Linked DNA regions of Homo sapiens: all the other regions are linked to region 1. Evidence: fine-mapped expression QTL. A gene starts in region 1. Each other region holds a variant in brackets. All regions are shown on one strand. Distances are from middle to middle. Region 1 holds the start of ZNF660 (zinc finger protein 660). Region 2 overlaps ZKSCAN7 (zinc finger with KRAB and SCAN domains 7). Region 3 overlaps ZNF660-ZNF197 (ZNF660-ZNF197 readthrough).

Region 1 (4,144 bases):
ATAAATTCAAGGGATGGATAAGTGAAATGTAAACATTGCAAGAAAAAAAAAGAATTAGAAGAAAGGCCTAAGCCTCAAGGGAAAGGCTAACACCATGTGAAAAAGCTGATATATCTGACACATAAAAATTTCTGTATTCCAAAAAATGCCATAACAAATCTATAAAATAGAGTTTGCCTTATACTGGAATTGCTTGTGTGTATGTCTGTGTCCATCCTCAAATATATACATTAAGCTCTATGCCCTCAGAGAGCAGTTCCCATGAGATTTGCCTGTAGATACCACATGGTGTCTGACACAGAGAGGGCTCAGTCAGCATTGTTTGATTTGAAATGGTAAATTAAACAAGTTTAAGATTCTAACACCTGGAGTGCACATAGGGATGCTGAGAGCCAAATCCACACATCACTACTACCATCCCTCCTCTACATGTTTGTCCTTTTTGTGCTTCATATTATCTGGGAAACACCATAATGGTGTATTTGCATTCTTGGCAATTCTGTCTCAACAGAGTCATCCCAGGGACTAAATTCCCTAAGAGATTGACCTGGTCCCACTATTCAGAGACTCTCAGTATGTCAGAGCTGGAAGGAACCTCCCAGTCTATCCAGTCTTATATCCAAATGTACAGAAGGAAAACTTGGAACTTAGAGGAAAGCTGGGACTCAAATCCAAGTCCCATGACACCCAATTTTGAGTTCTACTACATCACCCTTATTCCCATCTGAAACAAAACTCTACTCCTCAAGGTCCAGAGGCCCCCTGCCCACTTCAGTGCTTTTCTCCTGTTTGATAAATACCACTGAGAGAAGCTCCCTTTCAACCCTGGTGCCCACAAGCAGGATTCCTGTGCCCAGACTAACTTCACAATCTAGGCCTCACCTGCCCAGGAGAGAATGGAATGACTCACCCATATTCCTGTGCACAGCAGCCTCAATCCAAAGGATCTGCACAGCACAGATCTTGCCTGATCTCCTCCTTGAGTTCAGTGAAGAAGTTCCTAAGAGGGTCTTGAGTCACTGTAAACAGATATAAATGACTGAGTTCTCTGAGCCCTGAATTCCAAGTGGACACTCAGGGCAGTGTCCCATCTTTGGGTAACTTCCCTTCCTATAGAACTGTGGGCAGTAAGAAGGATCATTTCCAGTGTAAAGATGAGGGAATGAAGCTCCCAGGGATTGAACGACTTGCCCAAGGTCCTATAGCTAGTGAGTGATTAAAAAGCCTTCTGTGTCTTCAGGAAATCCTAATTCCATCACACCACAGCCTCCCCTTTTCACCTGCTCCATTGATATCTAAAAGCTTCCATATTCTCATCTAACTGCAAAATACAATGCAGTGGAGAACTTCCTTGCAATCCAGCTTTCCACAGAAAGTCTGCACAAGGGGGATGAGAGGGAGAACTTTGCTGAGTCAAGTGTCTTTAGGAAGACAGAAAGAAACAAGTCTTTAAAAGAGCACTAGAAAAAGAATGTTCCTTTTTTCTGTTTACCCATTTCTTAGGATTACTAAGCCTCAAATATGTTTTGTGTTTCCCCCTCCAGATCCCCAGGCTCTGCTTCTAACCCTTGAAGTTTGTTTCATTTCTCCCCTACTAGAATTTAGTTCTGTCCTGTACACAACCATAACCCCAGGACCTAGCACACTACTGGGTTAGTGCTCAATAAATATTTGTTGAATGAATCAATGAATGAATGAGTAACCTTGGGCAAGACTCCGTCCTCTTCTCTGGGCCCCAGGTTCCTCACTGGTAACGGGAGGGATATTGGACTGGTGATTTGAGTCAAATACTCAGGGGCTGTGGAGTCCTGAGAGCCTAGGCGGGACTCGACCGCTACTACCCGGAAGGCCCACTGCCTAGGAGCGGGGACGACACAGTGCTGTCACCACGGCCAGCCTGGTCCAAGCGAGCAGCTACGAGGAGTCAGAGACTGGACCCAAGACAAAGGGGCAGCACTGAACGAGAGAAAGGGGAGGCCCACAACGACCCCTTGGCTGCCGCGCCCATCTCAGCAGCGGGCAGCCGCAGAGGAGCCCTGGCCTCCTGGCTTGCGTCTCCCACACGCTCCCAGAACCCGGCCCGACCCCCCACGCCAGACTGTAGAGCACCCCTCACCGAAAGCGCCAGACCCACATCTTGAACAAAGCGCAGAAGGAACTGCGTCAGCAACTCCCAGCTAACTCCCAGCCTGTCCCTCCGGCCCTTCTAGGCTTCGTGAGGTTTCCACATCTCTGTGCCCGCGGGCTGGAGTCCCCCCGCCCCTCAGAAGCCCCGCGCGGTCGGCCGACGCTCTGGCCCTGCCTCCCTTCCGGGCTTTGCCCTATCATTGGATGGAAGGGCTTGGCGACTTCAGCCAATGTGAGGAGGGCCCTGGAAGTGGTGGAAGCTGGGCAGGGGGCTTGGTTAGGGCGGAAAGAGACCGAGCATCTGGGTGGCCAGGCTGCCAGCCTCAGGCTGAGACTCCCTAAAGTTACACCCCCAGCTCCGGTTGCTGAGCAGAGAGGTCATCTTTCCTTCCACAGATCTGGGTCATTCAGCCTCAAAGCCAGGATCAGCTATGGTTTATTGGCAGCATATGAAAAGACGTTTTGGGTGCCTACTATGTCACTCACTGTTCCAGGCGCTGCGGATACAGTAGTGAAGAAAATGAACTCTCTGCCCCATTGAGTTTACATTCAAGTCAAGGAGACAATGATAAATAAATATGTAGAACGTAGCAGTAAGGGGAGAGAGGGAGTAAGGGGAGAGAGGGAGATAGTGGTGGGACTATTTTACAGATGACAGGGAGGGCAGAGACAGGAAGTGGGCAATTGAAGCATGTGGCTATCTGGGGAAAGAGTATTCCCATAGTGGGCCATTAGGAGCAAAATTCTTTAATCAGGAGTGGGGTGGAGAGGTGCACATTTAGGATCTTGTAGACTATGATAAGGGCTTTGGATTTGCTCTGCATAACAGCTGGAGGGCTTGGGGACAGAGGAACGACATGATCTAACTTTTTTTCCCTTACCACATATTCAAAGACTTGTTAGCTATGAGACATGAAAGAAGCCAAGAAGCCTGTTACTATAAATTCTGTGAATTCTTTGCTGTCTGTCCTTAGCCATTCTAACATAAACCTTGCATGAATTTTGCTCTTTGACTTATATTTTTAGTTTGCTTTGGCTGTCTTGTTGAGAACGGTCTGAAGGTGGGTAAGAGTAGAATCAGGGAGATTAAGAGGCCATTACAATATTCCAGATGAGGACTGATAGTGGCTTGGACAGGCTTAGAAGTGATGCAGGTAGTGAGAAATGGTTCTGCATATATTTTGAAGGCATGGCCTGCATGATTTGCTAATGAATTGAATGTTGGTTACTGATGACTCCATGGTTATTGATCTGAGCAACTAGCATGGGATGGTCTTTTAGAAATCGAGTAGCTTGAAAGGAACAGGTTTAGGGAGAGGGATTAATAGTTTTGTTTTGGATGTGTTAAAGATGCCAATTAAACATCCAAGATGAAATGCCAAACAGGCAGTTGGAATAGGAGTCTGGACTTCCGTGAAGAGATCACAGCTAAAGACATAAATTTGGAAGTTGTCAGGACAGGATGAGACAATCTAGGGAATGATTTATCTAAGAAGGAGTCTGAGAATCAAGCTTTTGAAGTACTTCGTCAATTGACAAATATTCAGTATTTAATATTGTTGAGTACTTAAAGTATACCAGGAGCTTTCTTCTCCATTGGCTCATGTAGGTGGCACAACTCCGCCACATTGTATAGAGATTGAAAAAGAGATTCAGACAAAAGTCCTCCACAAGTTCACACCCTCAGTTGATGTGGGACGTAGAACTCGGGACACTCTCCTGAAGAGCACAAGACTACTGCCACTACATCAAGAAACTTAAAAAGAATAGGCTGGGTGTGGTGGCTCACGCCTGTAATCCCACCACTTTGGGAGGCTGAGGCGGGTGGATCACCTGAGGTCAGGAGTTCGAAACCAGCCTGGCCAACATGGTGAAACCCCGTCTCTACTAAATATTACAAAAATTAGCTGGGCATGGTGGCAGGCGCCTGTAATCCCAGCTACTCAGGAGTCTGAGGCAGGAGAATCGCTTGAACTCGGGAGCTGGAGATTGAAGTGAGCCAAGATCACGCCATTGT
Region 2 (4,120 bases), 24 kb after region 1:
GGTATCTAGTAGAAGAAATTTCCTTTTTTTTTTTTTGTTTTTTGAGATGGAGTCTCATTCTGTCACCCAGGCTGGAGTGCAGTGGCGCGATCTTGGCTCACTGCAAGCTCCGCCTCCCAGGTTCATGCCATTCTCCTGCCTCAGCCTCCCGAGTAGCTGGGACTACAGGCACCCGCCGCCATGCCCAGCTAATTTTTTGTATTTTTAGTAGAGATGGGGTTTCACCGTGGTCTCGATCTCCTGACCTCGTGATCCACCTGCCTCAGCCTCCCAAAGTGCTGGGATTACAGGCGTGAGCCACCACGCCCAGCCCTCTAGCAGAAGAAATTTCTAAGCAGCAAAGCATTCAAGAAGTGACCTGGCTGTTTCTAAAAGTGTCCACTCATATTTGTGAACAAAGAGATCTGAAACTGGAACTTATATTTAAAAGGGAAGCAGAGCATAAAAATTTGGAAAATTTGTAGCCCGGCCATGTGGTAGAAAAGAAAAACCCGTTTTCTGGGGAGAAATTCAAGCCTGCTGCAGAAATTTGAATAAGTAAAGAGGAGCCAAATTTTAATAGCCAACACAATGGGGAAAACGTCTCCAGGGCATTTTAGAGACATTCACAGCAGCCCCCTCTCATCACAGGCCTGGAGGCCTAGGAGAAAACAATGGTTTCATGGGCTAGGCCCAGGGCCTAGCTGCTCTGTGCAGCCTCAGGACATGGTCCCCTGTGTCCCAGCCACTCCAGCTCCAGCTGTGGCTAAAAGAGGCCAAGGTATAGCTCAGGCTGTGTCCTCAGAGGGTGCAAGCCCCAAGCTGGCAGCTTTCACATGTTGTTGGGCCTGCAGGTGTGCAGAAGGCAAGAGTTGAGGTTTGGGAATCTCCTCCTAGATTTCAGAGGAGGTATGGAAACACCTGGATGTCCAGGCAGAAGTCTGCTGCAGGGGCAAAACTGTCATGGAAAAACCTCTACTAAGGCAGTGTGAAGGGGAAATGCAAGGTTGGAGCCCCCACACAGTCTTGCTGAGGCATTCCCTAGTGGAGCTGTGAGAAGAGGGCCACCATCCTCCAGACCCCAGAATGGTAAATCCACAAGCAGCTTGCACCATGTGCCTGGAAAAGGCACAGGCACTCAATGTCAGTTGGTGACTGCAGCCATGGGGGCTATAACCTGCAGAGCCACAGGGGCCAGGATGCCCAAGGCCTTGGGAACTGATCTCTTGCATCAGCATGCCCTGGATGTGAGACATGGAGTCAAAGGAGATTATTTTGGAGCTTTATGACTTAATGACTGCCCTGCTTGGTTTTGGACTTGCATGGGACATGTAACCCCTTTGTTTTGGCCAATTTCTCCCATTTGGAATGGGAGCATTTACCCAATGCCTATATCCCCATTGTATCTTGGAAGTAACTAACTAGTTTTTTATTTTACAGGCTCATAGGTGGAAGGGACTTACCCTGTCTCAGATGAGACTTTGGACTGTGAACTTTTGAGTTAATGCTGAAATGAGTTAAGTCTGGGGGACTGTTGAGAAGGGATAATTGTATTTTGCAATGTGAAAAGAACATGAGATTTGGGAGGGGCCAGGGCAGAATAATAGTGGTTTAGATTTGTGTTCCCACCCAAATCTCACAACGAATTGGAGGAGGGGCCTGGTGGGAGATGACTGGATCATGGGGTAGATCTCCCCTTGGTGTTCTTGTGGGTTCTCATGAGATCTGATCATTTAAAAGTATGTGTCACTTCCCCCTGCATTCTCTTCTGCCACAATGTGAAGAAGGTCCTTCCTTCCTCTTTGCCTTCTGCCATGATTGTAGGTTTCCTGAGACCTCCCAGTCATGCTTCCTGTTAAGCCTGTGAAACTGTGGGCCAATTAAACCTCTTTTCTTTTTAATTAC[C/T]CAGGTAGTTCTTTATAGCAGTGTGAAAACAGACTAATACAGAATCACAGGTTTCCCTTCCTTGAAGACATGAAAACCTCATTCTAATATGGCATTCCACAGCAAGACCCTAGAGAAAAGCTGTTGGCTTAGAAACTAGGGAGATGGAAAATCCTGGTCCTCCCACTTGATGGTAATCAGAAACAACCACACCTCAGCTAAATCTTTCGGGCAAGGGAATGCTTACTACATGTGCTCACTTCACTTGTCAAATGGAGATAATGATTACTGCACTGCCTGTTTTGTAACCCTGGCAGGAGATGAAAAAAGATACAGGAAACAGGCCAGGCGTGGTGGCTCATGCCTGTAATCCCAGCACTTTGGGAGAACGAGGCGGGAGGATCATGAGGTCAGGAGATCGAAACCATTCTGGCTAACATGGTGAAACCCTGTCTCTACTAAAAATACAAAAAATTAGCTGGGCGTGGTGGCAGGCACCTGTAGTCCCAGCTACTCAGGAGGCTGAGGCAGGAGAATGGCGTGAAGGAGGCGGAGCTTGCAGTGAGCTGAGATTGTGTCACTGCACTCCAGCCTGGGCAACAGAGTGAGACTTTGTCTCAAAAAAAAAAAAAAAAAAAAAAAAGATACAGGAAACAAAAGAATTCTGCAAGTTGCATGACTCTGCAGCCCAGCAGGGATCACTATACAAACCTTTCCCAGCCACAATGTGCACACATGTACATGCTCCTTCTGCAGCAATAAAGTGGCTTGCTCCTGATAAGCAAAATGACTCCAATTTACCTGGACCCTCCTTAATCTCCTCTTGGCAAACTTCCATGGAAAAGCTTGTTTATTCATTTAGCCATTCTGTAAACATTTTCTGAACGCCTGCTGATGAAAGATAGTCCTGCCCTTATGTCTTCGTGTCAGAAAACATAACACTGACAGTAGTGGGAGATTAAGAAATGGACTCCAAAGACCCTACACCCAAGCTGGAGCCATGAGCATTCAGCTGCCTCACTGTCTACTGTTAGTCATTTTCTTGGGTTGTGACTCAACAGTCACCCTTTTCTGAGGCTGCTAGCTGGATAAAGCACTAAAAGTTTTAATGGAGGAAGCATTAACTTCTTAAGCAAAACCAAGCAGGAAATAGGGACATTTTCCTTCTGCCACCCTCACTAAATGGTTCTCTAAATATGTCTTCAGCCACCTGTCATTGCCATGGCTGGCCCAGCTGCTCTCTAGACCCTTGTGATGGTTGATTTACTCATATGTGCTTACTTGTTTACACAAAGAAAATGATGGTTGATAATGACAAATGTGTACTGCTAATAATCCTGGAAAAATGTCTAGCCCCAGGATCCTGATCAACTAGAACTGATTCCCTAGTGATATGTAATCATTTTTTAAAAAGCATTGAATAGGCTGAGCGTGATGGCTCACACCTGTAATTCCAGCACTTTGGGAGGATGAGGCAGGTGGCTTTCTTGAGCTCAGGAGTTCAAGACCACCCTGGACAACATGGTGAAACCCCGTCTCTACTAAAAACACAAAAATTAGCCAGGTGTGGTGGCTCACACCTATGGTCCCAGCTACTAGGGAAGCTGAGGTGGGAGGATCACTTGAGCCCAGGAGGCAGAGGTTGCAGTGAACCAAGATTGTGCCACCACACTCCAGCCTGGGTGATAGGGTGAGACTCTCTAGGAAAAAAAGCATTGAATAAAATGATATATTGGGTACTTGGGAAATTCTCTATACTGTTTTCCCCTGATAAAGTACAAAGGGGTAGAGGGGACCTCTAGTTCACCCTGCTTCTATTATAGGGGAACAATTTGAAACTCATTAGGAAGAACTAACTTATCCATGGTGTGATGATCTTTTGATGTGTCAACTTGGTACTAATCAAACATCAATCCAGGTGTTGCTGTAAACTATTTTAAAAATGTGATTAAAGTACATAATAAGTTTAAGTAAGGGAGATTATACTAGATAACGGATGAATGCATGAGCCTGATTCAATCAGTTGTAAGCCCTTAAAAGCAAAGCTAAAAGTTCCATGAAGAAGAAATTCCAGGCCAGGCGTGGTAGCTCATGCCTGTAATCGCAGTGCTTTGGGAGGCCAAGGCAAGAATATCATCTGAAGCCAGGAATTCAAGAACAAGCCTGGGCAACATAACAAGACCACATGTCTACAATAAAAAAAATTAGCCTGGTGTGGTGGCACATGACTGTGGTACCAGCTACTCAGGAGGCTAAG
Region 3 (4,144 bases), 47 kb before region 1:
AAAATCTACAGACTGTTTCACCCACCACTGCCACTACTGAGATACTAAAGGATACAGTCTCAAAAGTGTGAAAATGTACAGTTTAAATTATTAAAGATAATAAAATAAAGTTGCTAGGTACAAAATTAACACAAACAAAAAGTACTTTCATATATGCAAATGACAGTCAATTAGAAAATACAGAAAAGACTCCAATTCCAAAGAATAAATATTACCAGAAATATGGAAGATCTAGGCAATTTTAAAACATGCCCGATGCATACAAAAGCAGTACAGAAAAAATGGAATGTTATGTAATGTTCTTGAATAGAAACATTCAGAATCATAAAGCTGTCAATGTAAAGCATGATACACAGACCATGCAATACTCTGCAGCCATTTAAACTGATACTGTAAATCTGTATTTCAGTCAAAGTTAGTTCCTGTGGCTGATTACCCAGTTCTGAACGTTGATTTCTCCAAAGAGAATTCTACTCTTTTCTTCAAGTTCCAGTATAAATGCTACCTCCTTTATGGCCTTTGCTAATCCCTAGGAATGAAACTGATTGCCCCGTTTTCTGCATTTCTGTCACACCAGGTTTATGCCACTCTTGTACCAATTATTTTACTCTGCCTTGTATATTTAATATCTCTGTAATCATCTCCTAAACCATTGTAAGCTATTTAAGGGCCGAATCACATCATTTTCACAGCTGTACCATGATAGGTATTTAATGTCTGCTGGTAGCAAAAATGGCTAAAAATTGTTTTGAAATATTCTTTTATTATTTATCAAAGAAATCTATTTTAGAATATATATAACTTTAAAAATATATTAGCAACAATTTAGAATTGTGGGATTACTCAGTACAAATGAAGGCAGAGCAAAAGGAGTGTTCTTATACACCACTTCTAAGAACAGAGAGGACAGGGATCGCTACAGAAAGTAATTTGGCAATATGAAGCAAGAGCCTCAAAGCCATTCAAACACTTATGCCCAGTAATTGTACCTCTAAAAATAATAAAACATTTTAGAAGGCCTTAGGCACAGAGACAGATGATTATTATAGCAGTTATCTAAAATAAGGAATGGCTGACTGAATTATGGTACAAATCATATAGCCAATATAGATAATAACTGCAAAGAGTTTGTAACATGTGAGAACACACACAAGGAAAGCAAGCTATAAAACTGTGCACAGACACACACACACACACACTTTGGAACAATGTAAAAAATCCCTCAAACATATAGAAAAAACAGAAAGGTAATATATCAAAATGATAATAGTTATCTGGAAATAGCGATGTTAAGGAAGGTTTTTTTCTTCTTTGTAATATTCGGTGTTTTCCAAAATACATATATGCTACTTTTATAATCAGAAAACAAATAAAGGCTGGTGAAATAAAGGTAAGCATCATAGAAAGAAGAATCCTTACCTAGGGAGGTCACATTTCCATAATTCTCCAGCATCACATCCCAGTACAAGGCCCTCTGGATTGGGCCCAGACATGCCCATTCCTCTGAAGTGAAGCATACTGACACCTCCTCGAACATCACCAACTCCTGAAATAACAAGTGTGTGTGAGATTACCAATGCCCAGGAACTTGCCTGTCGAAAGGTTCCCTTCACTTCTGGGGAAGGGATACACTGTGAGGCCATGAGTGCATAACAGACATCAGGGAGACATAAGGAGATCACATGTAAAGTCTGTCTTCCAATAGCATAGACCCTGATTTAGAAATGGGAACTGACTGGACATTGAAGCACAAGGATGAGAGAGGGCACTTCAGCCACAGTTACGCTGTGCAGATGGGAAGGAAAGAGGATGCAAACCTTACCTGGGGCTGGGCTGTTAGGAGCATAAGTGCCATTAATTGATTTCTTGGGTTCTCTTCCTGGGAAAGGGCAGAAGCTTCAGGGGCAGGAGAATCTGAGGAGGGAGAAAAAGCTGCATATGGGACCTACAAACCTTTTCTGAGTGACCCCACTTGCAGAGCTGGAATAACACAAAGAGTAGCAGTAAGAATGATACAAGGCAGGGCGTGGTGGCTCACACCTGTAATCCCAGAGCTTTGGGAAGCCGAGGTGGGTGGCTC[C/G]CAAGGTCAAGAGATTACGACCATCCTGGCCAACATGGTGAAACCCTGTCTCTACTAAAAATACAAAAAAATTAGCTGGGCGTGGTGGCACGTGCCTGTAGTCCCAGGTACTCGGGAGGCTGAGGCAGGAGAATGGCTTGAACCTGGGAGGCGGAGGTTGCAGTGAGCCGAGATTGTGCCATTGCACTCCAGCCTGGCAACAGAGCGAGACTCCATCTCAAAAAAAAAAAACAAAAATGGCCGGGTGCAGTGGCTCACACCTGTAATCCCAGCACTTTGGGAGGCCAAGGCGGGCAGATCACAAGGTCAGATCAAGACCATCTTGGCTAACACAGTGAAACCCCGTTTCTACTAAAAAAAAAATTAAAAAACTAGCCGGGCACAGTGGCGGGCACCTGTAGTCCCAGCTACTCAGGAGGCTGACGTAGGAGAATGGCGTAAACCCAGGAGGCGGAGGTTGCAGTGAGCTGAGATCGCGCCACTGCACTCCAGCCTGGGCGACAGAGCGAGACTCCGTCTCAAAAAAAAAAAGGGGGGATGTATACAAGCTCAGAGGGGCCCAAGAAAGAAGGAGAGAACAACAGAACAGCAGAAAGAAATTGGCACTGTAAGAGACTCCTAGACAGGGTAGCAGAGGAAGCAACTCCCTGGAAGTAGGGGGATGAGCCACAGGAAGGGTCCTTGAACAGCCCAAAACCCAGAGCACTGAGTAAATACCATGCTGAGGATCCTGGAGGTTGAATGCCACTAGGTCAGTAGGAGGATGCGGGCAAATTTCAGCTGCTATGTGGCTGCCAGGAAGTACAGGAGGAAGTGTTGTTCCTGGGGCACTCACCACCTTCTGGAGAGTGTCCTGATCCTTGACAAGGACTGGAACCTGGAAACAAGTAAAATAAGCTAGCTCTTCTTGTTTCTTAAGAAAATGGACTCACCTAAGCACTGTGGACCTCTTTCTGCCCACAATCTACAACTGTGAGATCAGAGAGACCCACCTCAAGTATGGAGCATCAAAACAGCAGTAAAGCTTTGCATTGAGAACAATGGAGCTGCCCTCGAGCCCCACTCATGGCACTGGTGACCTCTCCCAGAGGAGACTGTACACAACGGTGGGAACAGAAGCCAGACCTGGGTGTGGGTTAAGGAGGGAATGGGAAGTAATAAGCAGTAATTAAGAGCATGGATTTTAGCTTCAGACTTAAGTTTTAGATCGGACTTCAGTCACATCTCTTCTACTTATTTACCATCTACTTATTGACCCCTTTACCTAGCCCTTTGTGCTCAAATACAACTAACACTAAAATTGGCACCAAGACACTTGGTTTTGCGGCCAGCTAGACATCTGCCTCAGTTTCCTTATCTCTCAAATGAGGATGTATTAGTAATTTGTAACGAAATATATAGCTCTAAAATTGTTCACGTTATTATTAAAAGAAACAAGCCCATCCTTAATGCCACACCCAAGTTTGAGTTATGATTCAGACGTCTTATACAGAAATGTTTCTAGTGAGCTACAGATGTACAAAAAGAAATCTCACACACATGAGAGGCTACATTAAGATCCCAATCTAATGGTCAAGGATATAAATCTTATCAGAAGCAAATATCTTAACCCAATCCCTTGGCTTGCAGATCCCTAGTAGGGCACACAAGAGGAGATCTTACCAAGATGTGGAAAGCTTCATTCTTGTTATGCTACTGCCATTTTATTTATTTATTTATTTAAAGACAGGATCTCACTCCATCACCCAGGCTGGAGTGCAATGGTGTAATCATAGCTCACTGCTGCCTCAACCTCCTGGGTTCAAGTGATCCTCCCACCTCAGCCTTCTAAGTAGCTGGGACTATAGGCACTCGCCACTACATCTGGCTAATTTTTAAATTTTTTGTAGAGATGGGGTCTTCCCATGTTGTCCAGGCTGGTCTTGAACTCCTGGCCTCAAATGATCCTCCCACCTCAGCCTCCCAAAATGCTGTGGCATGAGCCACTGTGCCTGGCCTGCTATTGCCTTTTATACTCTAGGCTTACATCACCATTCCAAACAGAATTATAGAAACAATACATAG

What was found. PIP is the estimated chance that this variant, and not a neighbour inherited with it, causes the effect. A credible set is the group of variants that fine-mapping cannot tell apart.
Region 2: its variant is the best candidate, but not a certain one, in a credible set for the expression of ZNF660 in cerebellar hemisphere (GTEx, PIP 0.76).
Region 3: its variant is the best candidate, but not a certain one, in a credible set for the expression of ZNF660 in whole blood (TOPMed, PIP 0.80).

Annotation. Positions count from the first base shown.
Region 1 is chr3:44,582,980-44,587,123 of GRCh38, reverse strand. ZNF660 (zinc finger protein 660) reads right to left here and starts at 2,160. Exons shown (of 3, transcript NM_173658.4): 1 at 2,117-2,160; 2 at 911-1,019. It overlaps ZNF660-ZNF197 (ZNF660-ZNF197 readthrough), which reads right to left and starts at 2,160. Exons shown (of 8, transcript NR_147692.2): 1 at 2,117-2,160; 2 at 911-1,019. The region is part of intron 2 of ZKSCAN7-AS1 (ZKSCAN7 ZNF cluster antisense RNA 1); the gene reads left to right. It also overlaps a transcript of ZKSCAN7 not described here.
Region 2 is chr3:44,558,893-44,563,012 of GRCh38, reverse strand. The region is part of intron 2 of ZKSCAN7 (zinc finger with KRAB and SCAN domains 7); the gene reads right to left. The region is part of intron 2 of ZKSCAN7-AS1 (ZKSCAN7 ZNF cluster antisense RNA 1); the gene reads left to right. Among named protein-coding and RNA genes, the nearest start is that of ZKSCAN7, 5.8 kb to the right of the region's middle. The variant C/T (reference allele first, on the strand shown) is at 1,885.
Region 3 is chr3:44,629,875-44,634,018 of GRCh38, reverse strand. ZNF660-ZNF197 (ZNF660-ZNF197 readthrough) reads right to left here. Exons shown (of 8, transcript NR_147692.2): 4 at 3,073-3,205; 5 at 2,798-2,957; 6 at 1,823-1,914; 7 at 1,420-1,546. It overlaps ZNF197 (zinc finger protein 197), which reads right to left. Exons shown (of 6, transcript NM_006991.5): 3 at 2,798-2,957; 4 at 1,823-1,914; 5 at 1,420-1,546. All of the region lies in intron 2 of ZKSCAN7-AS1 (ZKSCAN7 ZNF cluster antisense RNA 1), which reads left to right. Among named protein-coding and RNA genes, the nearest start is that of ZNF197, 6.9 kb to the right of the region's middle. The variant C/G (reference allele first, on the strand shown) is at 2,081.